Homo sapiens: one gene and its partners. The protein of the gene in region 1 interacts with the protein of each later gene in a pairwise test. Each region holds a gene or a part of one and is shown on either strand. Other genes may lie near its edges. The genes, in order: TCEANC, FAM217B and C1QTNF2.

What was found.
Region 2: the proteins of TCEANC (region 1) and FAM217B interact in binary tests that used the Homo sapiens proteins (3 or more experiments, as listed by UniProt).
Region 3: the proteins of TCEANC (region 1) and C1QTNF2 interact in binary tests that used the Homo sapiens proteins (3 or more experiments, as listed by UniProt).

What each region holds. Positions count from the first base shown.
Region 1 is NC_000023.11:13,659,487-13,663,140, reverse strand, and holds part of TCEANC (transcription elongation factor A N-terminal and central domain-containing protein), read right to left. Parts: intron 3,490-3,654; 5' UTR 3,455-3,489; coding exon of another isoform or gene 3,373-3,454; intron 2,111-3,372; 5' UTR 2,019-2,110; intron 641-2,018; coding exon of another isoform or gene 633-640; coding exon 1-632.
Region 2 is NC_000020.11:59,938,889-59,942,642, reverse strand, and holds the start of FAM217B (protein FAM217B), read right to left. Parts: upstream 2,255-3,754; 5' UTR 2,108-2,254; intron 446-2,107; 5' UTR 334-445; intron 217-333; 5' UTR 131-216; intron 1-130. Other genes in the region: PPP1R3D (protein phosphatase 1 regulatory subunit 3D), read left to right, coding at 2,712-3,611.
Region 3 is NC_000005.10:160,350,373-160,353,712, forward strand, and holds part of C1QTNF2 (complement C1q tumor necrosis factor-related protein 2 isoform 1 precursor), read right to left. Parts: intron 1-3,340. UniProt on the Homo sapiens protein: Involved in the regulation of lipid metabolism in adipose tissue and liver.

The DNA of each region.
Region 1 (3,654 bases):
GTAAAAACATGCTCTTCAATTTCTCTTGCAAAGTTTTGCCACAAATCAGCTTTGGGTTGATCTGTGGAAGAACTAGTTAAAGCTGCGTAAAGAAGCTCTATGCATTTAGTTCTCATGGGTGTTGTGGGATCCAGCAACTCACTCGATCTCTTGCCAGTGGATTCAGGGTCACCATCCCCAAAATGCTCTTCCTTAGGTTTCAATTGAATGGCTCTATTTTCAGGCACAATCATTTCACTGAGTTTTGCAACGTCTTGGGAAGACAGAGAATTCGAGCTGCAGATGCCCAGTGTCTCATTCTGACTTGGGTCATGAGAAGGTCCTGAATTTTCTTCTTTATTACCCCTCACAGGAAATAATTTAGGGCTGTTCCTCGCTTTGGAGTGAGTCTGCTTATAAACAGCTTTCCACTTTGATAGCAAACACTTGGCTTTCTTTTTCAAAGCCACAGAGGGGCAGTTTTTGAGGACTCTGTACACAGCTCTGACCACATCTGTCTCCTGGAGATGCTCCTTAGTCACATAAATTGTTTCTAGCTCAGTAAGGTGGTTGCCAAGATCCTCAAAATTCCTTTTGGACATCAGTTGCTCAATAAGAGAAGCTCTGGCAGCTATCTGGTTCTTGTCAGACATCTTTACAGCTGCAAAGAAAAAAGAGGTTTCAGTTTTCTTAAGTTTGCCGTTGCTAGTCGCAGCTTCTGGATACTAAAATAGCACTTTCTGTCAGTTACCTAGGCAATGTTTTCCGAAAGAGTCATGTAATACAAATGTATGCGACACGCTAGAAAATGGAATCTTTAAGGTGACGGTATGGTTTACTCTCAAGAGTTTAATTCCTACGAGTGAAAAACAAACAAACAGCATTGCAGAGCCTCTACATAACATCTGCTTAAGAGGCTTGCCGGAGGATCTGCTATAGCTTTTCCACCTCCAATTTTACAAATCAATGATCTTTCTAGATTAGTCAATCCATTTGGGCGGAATCCGGTGGTCATGTTGGAGGTGAAATCATGCCGGTGTCAGCATCAATATGGCAATGCTGAACAGTGCTAGACAATTTTTCCCCAGAGTCAGCTATATAACTGAACTACTTGCTCATTTCATAATCTTTAAAGTGGTACTCTTCTGAAAATAAAAGAGAAACAAGACAGAAAGGGTTTGCTAATGTCTCAAGCAATCTAAGGAAAATGTGAGACAGCACAGGTTGAAAAGCAGCTAGAGATACGTCTGCGGGTCCCAAAAGCCAACAGGCTACACTGTGCTGCCTTAGGAGTCTTCTGAACAAGGGAAAGGTTCAGACTCAATGATCCAGATGATTTATGACTTTAGACTAACTGGTTCTTACATTTTGGTTTTGTTAATTTTTAAAAAATTTTTAAGTGTAAAGAGTTGCTCAATGATTATGTCTGTGTGAATTTCATCCTAGGCAGGCAAATGTTTACTTTTATCTATGCAGTCTATTTTTTCCCTCCACATAATGTACATAATCTTGTCTATATAATACCCTTGGATCTATATTTATCTGTCTGGTCTAAATGTGAACATAAGCATCTTGATGGCAGGGACTGTGTCTTTTCAAAAATCCATGGGCTCTGTTTTATAGCACTTGATATTAAATAATCACCACCGAACATACACAGGCTAAGAACACTGAAGTGTTTAGAGAGAGAATTCACGCAGTCTTCCCAGACACCATATGACAAGTGACATAAAACATAATGACCTTTTAGTAATTCTACTTCCATAAATTTACTTTAAGGAAATGAGAGATGTGGAGACTGCATATGTAAGAATTTTCTTCTAAGGAGAAATTAGAAGGCCCTCAAATGGTTAAATGGAGAATGGTTAAAAATATGGCACACTCCTAGGATACAGTAATATAACCATTTAAAAATCATGTATTTAGATAATATTTAACGACATGGAAAAATGGTCATAAAGTTAGGTGAAAAACAATCAAGATGTAAAACTATATAAAAGACTAAACAGTTAACATATGGGCCGGGCATGGTGACTCACCCTGTAATCCCAGCACTTTGGGAGGCCGAGGCAGGCAGATCACGAGGTCAGGAGATCGAGACCATCCTGGCTAACATGGTGAAACCCCATCTCTACTAAAAATACAAAAAATTAGCCGGGTGTGGTGGCGGGCACCTGTAGTCCTAGCTACTTGGGAGGCTGAAGCAGGAGAATGGCATGAACCTGGAAGGCGGAGTTTGCAGTGAGCCAAGATCGTGCCACTGCACTCCAGCCTGGGCAACACAGCAAGACTCTGTCTAAAAAAAAATAATAATAAATAAATGAATAAACCAGTTATCATATGACCCAGCAGATCCAAGAGAAATGAAAACATATGTCCACACAAAAACTTGTATACAAATGTTCATAGCAGTATTATTCACAATAGCCAAAAATGGGAAATAATCGAAATGTCCATCAACTGATGAATGGATAAATAAAATGTGATTTATCCACACAACAGAATATTATTCTGCCATGAAAAGGAATGAAGTATTGATACAGTTACAACATGGATGAACCTTGAAAACATTATGCTGAGCAGAAGCAGCCAGACAGAAAAGTCCACATATTGTATGATTTTATTTACATGAAATGTCCAAAACAGGCAAATCTATAGAGACAGAAAATAGATCAGTTGTTGACTAGGTAGGGTAGGGCAGAAGGGCAGTGGGGTGAAGGAGGAGGAGCAGCTGATAAAGTTCAGGGATTTTCTTGGGAGGTGGTGGCACACATAAATCTTCTCAAGATTTATTTGTGGTGATGGGTTATACAACTGAGTATACTAAAAAACACTGAATTGTACACTTTAGGTGAACTGTATGGTGCGTGAATTACATCTGAATAAAGGTGTTATTTAAAAATAGAATTTGATCCAAATTTTATTTAAGAATTACATGTGAAAAGACTGAAAAGAGATACACAAAATTTTAAAGAGGGGCATTTTCTGAATGGTAAGATTTTAGGTAATTTTCATTTGTTATTTTCCTCTTCTGTATTTTCTGTGATGAGCATGTATTGCTTTCATAATCAGAAAAGTTATTGGTCTAACGCAATTTCATGATAAACTATATGCACTTAAGATATACCTACTGAAAAATGGTATGAGCAATGAATCAATCACCTTCTACCCACCTCCCCTCTGGAACGAGAATGTACATAACACTACTGAACTGTATACTTAAAAAGGCTTAAGACAGGCTGGGCGTGGTGGCTCACACCTGCAATCCCAGCACTTTGGGAGGCCAAGGTGGGTGGATCATGAGGTCAAGAGATCGAGTCTATCCTGGCCAACATGGTGAAACCTTGTCTCCACCAAAAATACAAAAAGTTAGCTGGATGTAGTGGCGCATACCTGTAGTCCCAGCTACTCGGAAGGCCGAGGCAGGAGAATTGCTTGAACCCGGGAGGCAGAGTTTGCGGTGAGCCGAGATCATGCCACTGCACTCCAACCTGGCGACAGAGCGAGACTCTGTCAAAAAAAAAAAAAAAAAAGGGCTTAACACAGTAAATTTTATGTTTTGTATATTTTATCACAATTAAAATTTTTTAAAGAAATATGAAGAAAAGGTCAATAAAAGAACATATAAAATGAAGAGCAAAGTGCTTTTTGGTTGTTTATACATAAATACATTAA
Region 2 (3,754 bases), on another chromosome or scaffold:
CTAGAAAAAAATTATAAATGTATATTTCTTATCTATAGACATACTTTTTTCCCCACTCCACATATTCAATCTGGACAACAGAGATAATGAGTCTTTTGCAAGATAAAGCAATTATACTAAAACTATTTACCTGCTTTTCTGATGAGATTCATTCACCCTATTCCTCTTCTTGAAAAAATCACGTGGCTGATCATCATCTCGGGTTTGATGGACTGTCTAAAAACAGGGATGCAGTAATAAACACTGTGAACATGTACACAAGAAACAAGCAAGCAAACAAACAAAAATCCCAGAATAAATCTAAGTCAGATTTTTCTTCTAAGTTTACATTACCTTTCCTGTAGTGCTCAAAATATTCTTGCTCAATCTGCTGGAAGATGATGACAGCTGGGGAGGTGACTTCTTTATTCCTCTTATATTTGGAAAGGTCTCCTCACCACCGGAACTAGAAGCAACAGAATACTGTCAGTAACTATTGATTGCAAATGGTCCTACCACCAGTATCGGGTTGGTTTTTCACTTGTTTTTTAATACTTGTATAATATTGAAATATTAAGGCTGTGATCATATAGTGGTTTGCACTCTAGGTTATGAAATACTGGGGAAGGGAGACATTGTCTTATGCTTACAGCTTTGTCTTTTCTGCTTATTACAGTAGATATTAGAGACAGGATCACAGGATCACACTACTATAAATACTGTGAATGGATTCCATCTCTCTCTCTCTCTCCCTGTTCACACACAGGTATAATCTTCCTTGGAAATAATATGTTGAAGAAATCTGGAAGGCTAAATAAGGTCAGGTCTTATTACAGCGTTCAATCATTGCATTGCCCAATCATTCATTCATGCAACAAATAATTACAGGAGTACCCAGAAAAATGGCAATGATTATGCACGTCCCTGTTCAGAAGGAGCTTAAACTCTAGGAGGAACGTTCCCATTCAATTTTTCGGCCTTCTCTATCACATCAATCCATTATAAGACTTTCCATATATTCATACATATTACATATTATATATCATCTCTTTATGAAGCATTGTTGACCTATACCACATATTGCTGTTATTCCCCTCTCATTTTGAGTGGCCTATTAAAAGTGCACTGAATGGAAATTGGATACTTCTCTTTCCCGTATCACCTGTCTCTGTAAAATAAAAGAGATGATTATAGAAGATTTTTATTTTCTTCCTGAAACTTTCCTGTATTTTTCCCACATTAATCATGTAAGCCTTTTTAGTTAGCTTACATCCAATGATAAATAAAATCATTCTCTCACATTTCATGAATTATACCACAATCAACAGCCTTGACTCATTTTAGATGCAACGAATGTTCTTGAATCAACCCCCTTTCATTAGTCTGGTTTTCTTTCTGCTTTGTCCCTCTGGACAATAAAAAGGAACCTTCTTAATGGAATGGCTGGCCCCAAACTGCTCTCTGGAAAGTGCACTTGCATCTTTTCTACTTCATTTCACCTGGTATGCTTTACACCAAAGGCTGTGGGGTTTTGTGCTCAAAGCTACCGGGTGAGAGACACGAATGCCTGCAGGGTTCTAAATAGGCAGAAAACAAGCTCCAGGCCTTGCTGGTGTTTCTGGCTTGCTTGGAAACAAAGCTAAAAGTCGGAGATTCTGGCTACAAATATGCTCCCCAAGCGCCAGAGGCTGATTAAGGGCAGCTGCAGAAGTCATCAGCGGGTAATAACTCTTGTTCCCCTGTCTTCCTCTCTGGCGCGGAGTCCAGGAAGACAACAGCAGCACCTCCCCTCCCCACCCTCAAGGGAATCTGCTGGCCATTCGGTGCGGCAAAGCATTCTGGGTGATGTGGACATGACGCTGCTCCTCTACGCAGTGAGGCTCCCTCGGTCTGACCAAGGGTCCAGGTTGCAGTGAACCTGTCCAAAGTGTGGGCTGGCCTCGATGTTTAAAATTAGCCTGAGACCAGCTCCTGGCAAGGCCGGTTTTTGCACCACCGCTCCCCCCATCCACAACCCAGAAATCTAAGGACACGCAGCATGCATTTTCCTTGTCCTCCGTTTGTGCAGACAAAGTCTATGATCGATAGGCGCGCAATCCAGGCAGACGTAAACAGAAATTGATCAGACCTGTTTCGCGACTGCAGCGGACACGTGACGAGGCTGCCAGCCTTCCTTCCTCTCCGGCGCCCGCGCGGGGACGCCCGGCTGCGGCGCGCTGCGGCAGGGGAGCTGGAGGCGGAGGCGCGCAGCTCCGCTGAGCTCCCTGGCTGAGCTGAGGCCGGCGGGGGCCCGCCTGCAGGCGGCGTCACGAGGGGCGGGGCGGAGGCTCGCTAGGAAGTTGCACCCGGTCAAGTTGCAGCCTTGTAAGTAACGCCGCGGACCGGGAAAGTGGGAGGGGCCGCTCCCGGAACGCAGCCTTCTTGTAAGAACCTCCAAGGAAGCAAGAAGAAAAAAGAGGCGCTACCCTGCGCTCCCGGGAGGCCTCTGAAAGCTTCCACTAGAGAAAAACTCCCCACTCTTACAATTTCTTTAACCGCAAGAAGCGGAGGACCTGGACAAGGACTCGAGGAGCAAGGTGGCGAACCAAGGGTAGGGCGCACCGGGCCCGAGAGGTCCCCCGCAGGTTGCAGATACGGTGGACTCTCTGCGGCTTCTGAGCACGGAGGGAGCTGTCGCGGGGTCGGGAGGTCGTCTCTCATCCCTGCCTCATCTTCCGACGGCCGGCGGGGCCATGTCCAGAGGCCCGAGCTCCGCGGTCCTGCCTAGCGCCCTGGGATCCCGGAAGCTCGGCCCCCGGAGCCTCAGCTGCCTGTCGGACCTGGACGGCGGCGTGGCCCTGGAGCCGCGGGCCTGTAGGCCCCCTGGGAGCCCGGGCCGCGCGCCGCCGCCAACGCCAGCGCCGTCGGGCTGCGACCCCCGCCTGCGGCCCATCATCCTGCGGCGGGCGCGCTCACTGCCCAGCTCCCCCGAGCGCCGCCAGAAGGCCGCGGGCGCGCCGGGCGCTGCGTGTCGGCCGGGCTGCAGCCAGAAGCTCCGCGTGCGCTTCGCCGACGCCCTGGGCTTGGAGCTGGCACAGGTCAAGGTGTTCAACGCGGGAGACGACCCGTCCGTGCCGCTGCACGTGCTGTCGCGGCTCGCAATCAACTCGGACCTGTGCTGCAGCAGCCAGGACCTGGAGTTCACCCTGCATTGCCTGGTGCCCGATTTCCCGCCGCCCGTCGAGGCCGCCGACTTTGGCGAGCGCCTGCAGCGGCAGCTCGTGTGCCTGGAGCGTGTCACTTGCTCGGACCTTGGCATCAGCGGTACGGTGCGCGTGTGCAACGTGGCCTTCGAGAAGCAGGTGGCTGTGCGCTACACTTTCTCGGGCTGGCGCAGTACCCACGAGGCGGTGGCGCGGTGGCGCGGGCCCGCAGGCCCCGAGGGCACGGAGGACGTTTTCACCTTCGGCTTTCCAGTACCGCCCTTCCTGCTGGAGCTCGGCTCCCGCGTGCACTTCGCGGTGCGCTACCAAGTGGCGGGTGCCGAGTACTGGGACAACAACGACCACCGAGACTACAGCCTCACATGTCGCAACCACGCGCTGCACATGCCTCGCGGGGAGTGCGAAGAGAGCTGGATCCACTTCATCTGAGCCGCGCGGGGACCGGCCACCTGGAGCCTCCACACCTAAGCTGCGCCTCCTGTCATTTCCCTGCTGGGCTCTCACATCTATCTGGTTGTTCTTCACCACCCTCCAAGTCCTCTGACCTAATTTTCTGCTGCAAGGTCCCCTGG
Region 3 (3,340 bases), on another chromosome or scaffold:
CTAAGAGGAAAGAGCAGGTGGCCAGACCCTTTGTGTTAAAAGGAAGGCAGGCCGGGCAAGGTGGCTCGCGTCTATAATCCCAGCACTTTGGGAAGCTGGGACTGGAGGATTGCTTGAGGCCAGGAGTTTGAGACCAGCCTGGGCAATGTAGCCAGACAGTCTCTACAAAAAATACAAAAATTAGTCAGGCATGGTGGCATATGCCTTTAGCCCCATCTACTTGGGAGGCTGAGGTGACAGGATCCCTTGAGCCCACGAGTTCCAGGTTACAGTGAGCTATGATTGTGTCACTGCATTCCAGCCTGGGCAACAGAGTAAGACCTTGTCTCTAAAAAATAAAAATTAGAAAAACAAAAGGAATGGAATCCACAATGCCAATTTTTTTTTTTTTTTTTTGAGACGGAATCTTGCTCTGTCGCCCAGGCTGGAGCACAGTGGCGCGATCTCCGCTCACTGCAAGCTCCGCCTCCCAGGTTCACACCATTCTTCTGCCTCAGCCTCCTGAGTAGCTGGGACTACAGGCACCTGCCACCACGCCCGGCTAATTTTTTGTATATTTAGTAGAGATGGGGTTTCACCGTGTTAGCCAGGATGGTCTTAAACTCCTGACCTCGTGATCTGCCCACCTCGGCCTCCCAAAGTGCTGGGATTACAGGCGTGAGCCACCACACCTGGCCCACAGTGCTAAATATTTCTACACCCATTTAAACGCATAGAAGAGTGCTTGGCCTATAGCAAACATTCCTAAATACTAGCTGGCATTCCCTGCAGAACAATTCCCCCAGTTGTGTTTTCCTTTAGAAGGCTTTTTGATGTTTCATACTCCAATGTTTCATAAAATGCACATTTCTCTCAATCCAACATTTTTGGCTACTGATTGCATAAAATCAATTTAGTTTATGTCCCCTCAACTCAATACAACATTTTAAGCAAAACCTATATGGATAATGACTTGAGTTCACTCGACACAAGGTTGTTAGAACCATATGAACTGGGTCAAGGAAGTAAAGTTTTAGGCATTTTACATCCTAACAAGTTACTTTGTTTCTTATACATTTGTATGTAGGCATTTCACTGTGTTTTAGAGTTTTGAGTTAATCTGTAATGCATCTGAATTTTTCCTATTTTACATAATTCGGAAATAGGTTTCCAAATTGCATTTTGTTACTGAACACTTGATTTTCAGGAACAGAGTGCTTATGTTAAGTGCCTGACAATGCCTGGTATTATTAAATACATATGTAAATATATAGAAAAAGGCCAGGAAAGATACATACCTAACCAATTAATAGTGGTTACCTCTGGAGGGTGAGGGAAGGATGAGAAGGGGTAGTAAGTAAGGAGGACTTTTGCTTTATGTGTATTGTTTGAATATATTACAATGAGACTGTATTTGTATATTACTCATATAATTAAAAATAAACAAAAAGAATGGGAAAAAATAAAACTCAGAAAAGTCACAAAGCTATTTCTTGAAAAAATGAAAATAAACAAAAGGTGGGAAAAGGGGCCAAGAGAAGAGGAATAGAGACAGAATCTTTTTTTTTTTTTTTTTAAAGATAGAGTCTCACGCTGTTACGCAGGCTGGAGTGCAGTGGCGCGATCATAGCTCACTGTAACCTCAAACTCTTGGGCTTGAGTAATCTTCCTGCCTCAGCCTCCTGAGTAGCTGGGACTTCAGGCACACACCACCACACTTAGTTAATTTTAAAATTTTTTGTAGAAATGGTGTCTCCCTATGTTGCCCAGTCTGGTCTCAAACTCCTGGCCTCCCAGTACTCTTGCCTTGGCCTCCCAAACTGCTGAAATTACAGGCATGAGCCACCACGCAGCCTCCAAGTCATTTTGACTTGGGGTTTTTGGCGGGAGACAAATAGATAAAAAAGCTTACCAGGAGGTCCTACCATGTATTATATAATGTGCTTTCCTCTTCTTTACCTTTTTTGAGAGACTTTGGGAAAAGCTGACTTTACTCTTGAAAGACTTTTCTGGAGGTGAATTTGTATGTGTGGTGATGGCGGGTGGTTGGATGTTATCCTGAATTGGCCCCAGGGTGACAAGCTTTGTTTGAGTTACATGCGCTGGGACTCTCCCAACACTGCCTTCCTTGGTGTGGTGGCTTCCTTCTCTGCAGAGACTCAACACACAGCAGAACAGATGGCCAAAGGCAGCCCCAGTACATGGTAGAACTTCCTGGTAAGCTTTATCTATTTGGGGAAGTCAACAGCAGAGACTCTGTCCCTCAGGATCCATAGGCAAATCTCAGGGAAAACTCTAGCTGGCCTGCTTGGAGCACATGTCCAGACCTGAGTCTGCCGCCGTGGTCAGGAAATTGGATATCATGATACCAGTGCCCAGCACGCTGGAAGACCCACCCCAGTTAAAGCTATGATAGTTACTTTTATACTAATCTCCTGGGGAGGAGGTACCTTTGAAGGAATTAGTTTGGTGTGGTAGGAAAAGACCTGGATTTGGAGTCAGCTATCTGCATGCTATGTGAGCTCAATAAGTCAATTACAGGGTGCCTAACATTTATTGTATGTCTATGCTGAGACTGGTCCTTCATACATTGTTTTATTTCATCTTTACCACAACCTTGTGAGACAGGTGCTATTATTATCCATATTTTAGAGATGAGGAAACCATGGTTTGGAGAGAAGTTAAGTAGTTTGTCAAAATCAGTGTCCAGGTTTGTTTCCAAAGTTCACGTTCTTGCGAGGATGACATTTTGCTATCAACTGAATCACTCTGACTCTCAGTATCCTCATCTGTAACATGGGGAAAATAAGAATCCCTCCGGCACACGATATGGATGGTCAGATGGGCAACATGTTCAAAAGTGCTTTGTCAATATTAAAATGCCATACAAATAAAAATTATTATATTTCTCTACTGCTTAAAATGTAGGCTTAGGGATGCTGCTGACACTGAAAAGTGCTTGGTTGCTGGGGTGAAAGTTTGGAGATATAAGGAATGTCACAACGGAAAGGTCTGTAGAGTATATCCATTCTGCTCGCCGTCTGCCTGGCATCCCTTCCTTTGGGGAGTTGCCCTTCACCATTTCATTTCATACGGTCCTAGCGGGGCTGTCAGTCACAATGACTGACTGCCCCCACCACCCACTCACACACACGCAGGGGTGGGTCCATGAGCCTGCCCTGCAAATGGAGGCACCTCACCTCCTTGGTCAAGGGAATTGGTCCAGGATACGCATGTGGCCAAGGAGAATTGGCTGTTCTGAGATTTGCTCTGTGGATGAAGCCAGGAAGATGTGGGCCGGAGCCCAGCAGTGCTATTTCAGAACTTCTAGCCTTTGTGAGGATACAACAAACACAGAGAG